Homo sapiens: one gene and its partner. The protein of the gene in region 1 purifies or fractionates together with the protein of each later gene. This does not show direct contact. Each region holds a gene or a part of one and is shown on either strand. Other genes may lie near its edges. The genes, in order: ANKRD26 and OTUD6B.

The links.
Region 2: the proteins of ANKRD26 (region 1) and OTUD6B fractionate together in Homo sapiens (co-fractionation; one large-scale study listed by BioGRID). This does not show direct contact.

What each region holds. Positions count from the first base shown.
Region 1 is NC_000010.11:27,090,291-27,094,120, reverse strand, and holds part of ANKRD26 (ankyrin repeat domain-containing protein 26), read left to right. Parts: intron 1-321; coding exon 322-436; intron 437-598; coding exon 599-772; intron 773-1,608; coding exon 1,609-1,715; intron 1,716-3,830. UniProt on the Homo sapiens protein: Acts as a regulator of adipogenesis. Involved in the regulation of the feeding behavior.
Region 2 is NC_000008.11:91,083,646-91,087,475, forward strand, and holds the end of OTUD6B (deubiquitinase OTUD6B), read left to right. Parts: intron 1-362; coding exon 363-469; intron 470-1,138; coding exon 1,139-1,223; 3' UTR 1,224-3,448; downstream 3,449-3,830.

The DNA of each region.
Region 1 (3,830 bases):
AGCAAGGAGAAGTGCCAAGCAAAAGAGGGAAAAGCCCCTTAAGAAACCATCAGATATTGTGAGAACTCACTATCACAAGAGCAGCAGCACGGGGGAACCATCCTCGTGATTCAGTTACCTCCCACTGAGTCCCCCTCACCACACGTAGGGATCATGGGAACTACAATTTGGGATTTGGTTGGGGACACAGCCAAGATGAGATTTGGGTGGGGACACAGCCAAACCATATCAACATGCTATTTAATGTTTATAATTTTATGAACCATTGTATGTTTTGAGACAGTGCACTACAGTTTATAAAAAGTCCTGTCACTCTCATAGGACGGCTCTACATTTGGCCTGTGCCAATGGTCATCCAGAAGTAGTAACTCTCCTGGTGGACAGAAAATGCCAGCTCAATGTCTGTGACAACGAAAACAGGACAGCTCTGATGAAGGTATATAGTAGCCAGCTCTTTCAGCATCAGATGGATTTGACTTAAATACATAGAATGAAAATGAATTTATCTCATTAAAATATAACTAATTGGTGAAACCTGTGGAGTGTTTATTTTGCATTCCTAGAATTTATGATCTGTTTCTTGGTCTAATACTCCCAGGCTGTACAATGCCAGGAAGAGAAATGTGCAACTATTCTGCTAGAACATGGTGCTGATCCAAATCTTGCGGATGTCCATGGCAACACTGCTCTTCACTATGCTGTCTATAATGAGGACATATCAGTAGCAACAAAGCTGCTTTTGTATGATGCAAATATTGAAGCAAAAAACAAGGTATAGATCAACCAACTTTATTTTTACAGTATTTGAAATGCGTTTGTTTCAACAGTGACATATGTAAGGGTTAGTTTTCTGTATTTGGAAGCGCAAGCATTCCCTGACTGAAAGTATTTTAAAATAACTTAATTGTCTAAGATTTTACTTTAAATGTTGATACTTTTAAAGAAGCATTAGGCAGTACACCTTTCTTTTATGCATTTATTGTAAATACTTGTGAAAACACAATTTGTTAAAGGCAAATCTTTTTTTTTTTTGAGACAGAGTCTTGCTCTGTCTCCCAGTCTAAAGTGCAGAGGCGCGATCTCGGCTCACTGCAACCTCTGCCTCTGCCTCCCGGGTTCAAGCAATTCTCCTGCCTCAGCCTCCTGAGTAGCTGGGATTACAGGTACCCACCACCATGCCCAGCTAATTTTTGTATTTTTAGTAGAGATGGGGTTTTGCCATGTTGGCCAGGCGGGCCTCGAACTCCTGACCTCAGGTGATCCACCCGCCTCAGCCTCTCAAAGTGCTGATATTACAGGTGGGAGCCACTGTGCTCAGCCTAGAAGCTCTTGGTTTTGATGGGAAACAATACAATGAATACAATATGCCATGCCAAATGATGTGATAGAAGCAAATATTCTTAGAACCGGTAAAAATTTGAAGTGAGTTTTGGAGATGAGTGGAGTTCATGTGGTGAGGCAGAGGAGGGGTGTTTCCAAGGGAAGCAAGTGTTTTTTATTTGTTTTCTATTTTATATGTTTCAGTTCAAAGGATCTGACATAGAGTTTTCAGTTCAGCCGAGAATTATGTAATTTTATGCATTTTAACTTGTTTTTGCTGTCTTACAGGATGACCTCACACCACTTTTACTTGCAGTAAGTGGAAAAAAGCAGCAAATGGTGGAATTTTTAATAAAGAAAAAAGCAAATGTAAATGCAGTAGATAAGTTGGAAAGGTACAGTAGCTGGTTTTGTTTTGGATTTTTAAACTTGTATGTTTAAAAGTTTTTTTAGATCTGTGTTTTGCATGTTACAGGTTTTTTAAACCTGCTTGTTCTTGAGGGGCAACAGTGATTCGTTGGTGTTTCTCACTCAAGTCAGAAATATTAATTTAATAAGAAGGTTAACATAATTATGGGGATATAGTGACAAATAGCAACACAAATCAGTTAGGAAGAAAAGCAGTTGCTTGGATTGGGCAATATAAAAGAAGACTATACAGTAGGATTCATCTTCTCTTATAATATTGACTGATGTTTGTTATTTGTAAACCCATGTTTTTGGCCATGTGATCTGTTAGCTAAAGAGGTTTCTTATCAGTTTTATTAGTTTTATAAAATGCGGACTTTAACTTTTAGTTTACTTTTTTTTTTTTTTACATGGAGTCTCCCCCGTCACTCAGGCTAGAGTGCAGTGGCGCAATCTCAGCTCACTGCAACCTCCACCTCCTGGGTTCAAGCGATTCTCCTGCCTCAGCCCCCTGAGTAGCTGGGATTACTGGTGCACACCACCACACCTGACTAATTTTTGTATTTTTAGTAGAGATGGGGTTTCATCATGTTGGTCAGGCTGGTCTTGAACTCCTGACCTCGTGATCCACCCGCCTTGGCCTTCCAAAGTACTGGGATTACAGGCATTAAGCCACTGCGCCCGGCCACTTTTTAACTCAATATTGAACTTCTTCACCCTTTTATGGTATTGTTCTAACCTCTGCTTATGTACTTTTCCTTCAGAAATGCTGTGTTAAACATCAATAGCAGTTTTTGTCTTTTGAGTGCCTCTTTGCTTTAAGTTGCTTTCTTTGAAGAGTACGGATGTTAGGTTATCCCTAGGTGATTGTTGATCGCTATTGCCAGATACTATAGTTTCATTATTTTTTTCCTTTTCTATTTCTAGTATATTTTGATGTTTTTATTTTTAATTGGTATGGGCAAAGGGAAGAAAGACAGCTTTTATTGGATAAACTTTTCCTTTATTGAAGACAAGCCATAGATGGGTGATAAAGAGAAAAGAGGCTTTAAATTCACACGAGACTGGATTTAATTCCTTGCTTTCCCACTTGTTAAGTGTGTAAGCTTGGGGACCTTACTTATCACCAAATATGTTTTCTGATATAAAAAGGGGGATACTAAATATATCTCAAGGTGGTTGTATTTAAATAAGATTATATAGCATTTGATTCAGTGCCTAGCCCACGCTTATCAGCATCATTGGCTGAAACTACTGTGACTCCTATTATTACCTTTATTATTATTATTATTATTATTTGAGACAGGGTCTGGCTCTGTCACGGGCTGGAGTGCAATGGTGTGATGTTGGCTCCCTGCAACCTCTGTCTCTTGGGCTCAAGCAATCCCCCTGCCTCAGCCTCCTGAGTAGCTGGGACTACAGGCATGTGCCACCACATCCAGCTAATTTTTGCATTTTTTGTAGAGATGGGATTTCCCCATATTACCCAGGCTGGCCTCAAACTCCTGGACTGTAGTGATCCACCCATCTTGGCCTCCCAAAGTGCTTAGATTATAGGCATGAGCTGCTGCACCTGGCTACCATTATTATTAATACTGTTTTAAGCCTGCAGATAGCTCTTATCTGACCCCTAGCTGACTGCAATTGTAATATATCAGACTAGAGAAGAAATGGAGAATTCTTCATTTAAATCTTTGCCTACTTTAGATAAGTAAACTCAGCATAGGTTTTTGCCATGAAAGGACTTCTAGTATGTAATACCCCAGTGAGACAAGAGGCCTCTTTTTTGTCCCTTCCTTTTAGCCTTGGTGGTAATTTACAAAGATGAGCACTTGAGCACCCAAGATGCTTATGTCTATTAGTAGATGTAAATAGTTAATTCTACACAGACAGGCAAGATACTAAATTGGTAAAGTATATCAAATTATCTGTGCACATAACCTTATTAAAGTTCCTGGGGTGAAATTACCTCTTATTTTATTTTTATTTATTTATTTTTTGAGATGGAGTCTTGCTCTGTTGCCCAGGCTGGAGTGCAGTGGCACAGTCGGCTCACTGCAACCTCTACCTCCCGGGTTTAAGCATTTTCTGGCTAATTTTTG
Region 2 (3,830 bases), on another chromosome or scaffold:
AAAATGTATAAAATTACCTTCATGGTGTGTGTGTAAGATATGTATGAAACATGAATGAATTTTGTGTTTAGATTTGAGTCCCATCCTCAAGATATCTCATGTAGTATATGCAAATACTCCCAAATCTGAAAAATTCAAAAACTAAAACAATTCTGGTTCCAGGCATTTAGGATAAGGGATATTCAACCTGTATTATATTTATTTATTCAACAGATATTTATTAAGTGCCCAGTATATACCAGGCTCTCTGTGTACAGTGGTGAACACAGCGTATCCCTGCTCTGACTGGTTGCCCGTTCACACATATTTGAATGTGATTTACATTTTTATTTTCCTTACTGATACTTTTTTTCTTCCTATAGCTAAGAGCTCTGTCTCACATTTTACAAACACCAATAGAGATAATACAGGCAGATTCTCCTCCCATTATAGTTGGTGAAGAATATTCAAAAAAACCACTAATACTTGTGTAAGTACCTAGACATTTTTACTGTTTTATTTTTCACAATTAATACAAAAAGGAATATTAAAAAATTTAGATTATATGTGTTAAAATATGTGACTTAGATAATTTTTTAAACCTCTAGCGATTTATTTTTGTGTGTGAGTTTAGAATAAAGTCATTTCTAAAGGTTATAACATTTTAGGACTAGTTTGTATACTGTCCTGGTTTGACATTAGTAATGCTAAAAGTTTCAACAAGTGTTAAAAGTTGAAATACATTCATGTTGCCTGTTTATTCCTTAGATTTATTTTTCTTCATTTTATGAAAATATCTTACATGATTTAGAAATCTCTTCTGAAATACAGCATGCAGGGTTTGCTATTGGCTTTAGTATTTTTTAGCTAAACCTATTAAGATAGTCATCAATGGCTAGATGACAATTTAAGCTGATTGAACCTTCAGCATCTCAGCCTTTTCGTTTTACCCCAGTGATTGAACCAGATCTTGCTGACTGCTGCCACTTTTCAAATGGTGTTGAACTCTTAATTAATATGTCCACATAGTCTATTGAGTGAAACCCATGTGGACTGAGTCATTCAGAATCATTGGTTTATATATATATATAATAAGCATATATATATAGAAAAATTGCTTTCATCAAAACTACTCATTTCTTTTTTTTTTTAATTTCAGATATATGAGACATGCATATGGCTTAGGAGAACATTATAATTCGGTTACACGGTTGGTAAACATAGTTACTGAAAATTGCAGCTAATTTATACAATGTTGTACAATTATGTTTTAATACAGTGTGCTGAACTGAGTATTTCTACCAAGTGTTGGGTTGTTCTAAATGCTACTGAAAAACACAACTACCTTATATCAGTTTTATGGCAAAGCTACTAACAGGTGTTTTTAGAAATATGTCAGAGATAAACTTTAACCAGTGTCTTCTTAGTGGAATTTTAAAAATTTGTTAAGTTCATTGTAGAGAACACCATTCATAGACCAAGATGGTCCCCTATTAGCTGATATTTTCATTTATGTAAGATCCTGGACATTCTGTTTTGTGTTGGAACAAATTTTCAATGTTTTTAATTCTCCCTTTTCTGCCTGTTCCTAAAAACTTTCAAAATAACCATTTCAATGTAATTTGTCTTGAAGAAGTTTACCCAATATCTTTGTCATTGCAATAATGTAGTATGGTGATGGTCAATTTAATTATTGCTTATAAAATGAACTTGATTGCAGTAACCATGGTATCGATGAGACTAATGCAGTGAAGCTTTATTACTAATATATATAGCCTTATCAAAGCAAGCTAAGAAGCTTGCTTTAATAATTAATAATTTAAAAATATTTATTTAGATGGGATTCAGTTGTTTAAAGAAGTGAGATAAATTCAAAGGTAAATAGGTATTCTCTGTCAAATTTAAATCTCTAAAGAATTAGAGATTAGTTTTTTATTTGTGTATAATTTAAAAAAGACCTAATAGGTTACTGTCTTTTTAATGCATTTGTTATTCTTTCGTATTTTTTAAGCATCGGACTGGAGTTAGTACCATCATCTCTTGAGTCTTTCATAACTACACATTTTTATATTTCCTTTTGTGTTTTCTACTTTGCTTTCCTTGAAGGAACAAGCATTTTGTGGCCTTTACCTTGTGCAATTTTAGGGAGTAGCAGTGTAAAAGGTCCAAGACCACATTTACTTGAAATTCTTCCTCTTTTCTGATTTGTCTTACCAGATATTTCCCTTCTTGCCTCATTCTCTAGGATTTGAATAAAACCTTTGCCACTTATTTTATTAGCCTTATTAATGTCACCTTTCCTTCAACTCAAATATTTGAGAAATTTTATGTTACATATATGAATGAAGTTGAAAGCTACTGTTTGGAAGCTAAGACTTGTATAGAGTAGTTTTGTATATGAATGGTTGTTCTAGCTCAGATTTCAGGTTACTCACAACAGTATTCTTTCTAAGAGGATATATACAAATGTCTCTCATAATTTATGTAAGGAAATATTATGAAAATGAGACTTTTTTAGTTTGATGTGTGTTTCCCAAACTAGAGATAAAACTAGTAAGATTTAGTATCGTTTATAACATTTGAATTTTTGCTCCATGAGTACAACTAATTTTTATAAGTAAATATTGGGTTTATATGAAAAATGGGGTGTCAGTCTTTTCACACGCCCAGCAGGTAACAATGTGGGAAGCTGGCAGGGTCATTGATAGCAAGTAAGTACTTCCTGAAGGCTTTCCAGTTCAAAAGATTACAAGCCATTCTGCCTGCCAAACAAATTATATTCTGAAGATGCCTGTTTTGTAACCCTTGATGTGAATTTTTTGGTGTCTGAAATTTACAAAAGAATGAAATTGAAATTGTAAAACACTAAATGCTTTGGGTTTATTTTGAAGTAATCTGTTACTTTAAAATGTCAACATTAGGAAGCCATAAAACAAGATATTATGAAACCCAGTATTATAAATGTTATCTACATCTAAAGTATTTTAAAATAACTTATTGGCAGCTTTATTCTTTTTTTCCTTACAAGATTTAGAATCTTTTTGGTTATATGTCTATTTTTCAATTTTGTTATATTTTTAATTTAAGTGGCCAATGTGGTTATGAACAAGATTTGTATGGTCAGCTTCTGTTCTTTCCTAAAACTTCAGATAAATATCATTTTAGCTATAACCTAAAAAAGTGTTTAAATAAAATGACAGATGTTAATTTAAAAGCAGCATATGCTAATTTACTTTTTCATATGATGATGGTCTAATGGAAGTTACATATGCTTTCTTTTGTCCTAACTCTGAAAAGTATATGTCAGAGTTCTGGAATATGTCTTTAGCCAAGAATTTTATTCACTTAAATTTGTTTACAACTTGTATAAAGCAAAAAAGAATGTGTGTAACTATAGTGAACGCATAGTTTTGCTTATATTATGTGATGTTTGCCAAAAAAAGAATAAAAAATGAATGAATTAAATCAACATTTATTTGCTTGAATTGTCATTCTTTAACAATTCAAGAATTTAGAAGTGGAGAAAACTCCTTTTGCTTTGTATCCAGCCTTTACTTTGTCTTCACACACAGATTCTTACATTTTAAGGGATTTTGAATAAATATATGAGCATAGCTTATGCCCCAGAAGTAGAGGGAAATAAAGTAATAGCCATTTAAGCTATAGCTCTTAGAAATCAGGTACAATCTTAGAACCTTTTAGAATAATGAATGTTTATTTAGGGTAAGTGAATTTGAAAAATATTTTAAGACCCATAGATGTTAAAATAAAGAATAAACATTTGTGTGCAAGAATGTGGAGCAGTAAGAAGGAAGTTTGTACAAATTAATGTTTTCACACAATTGTTAATA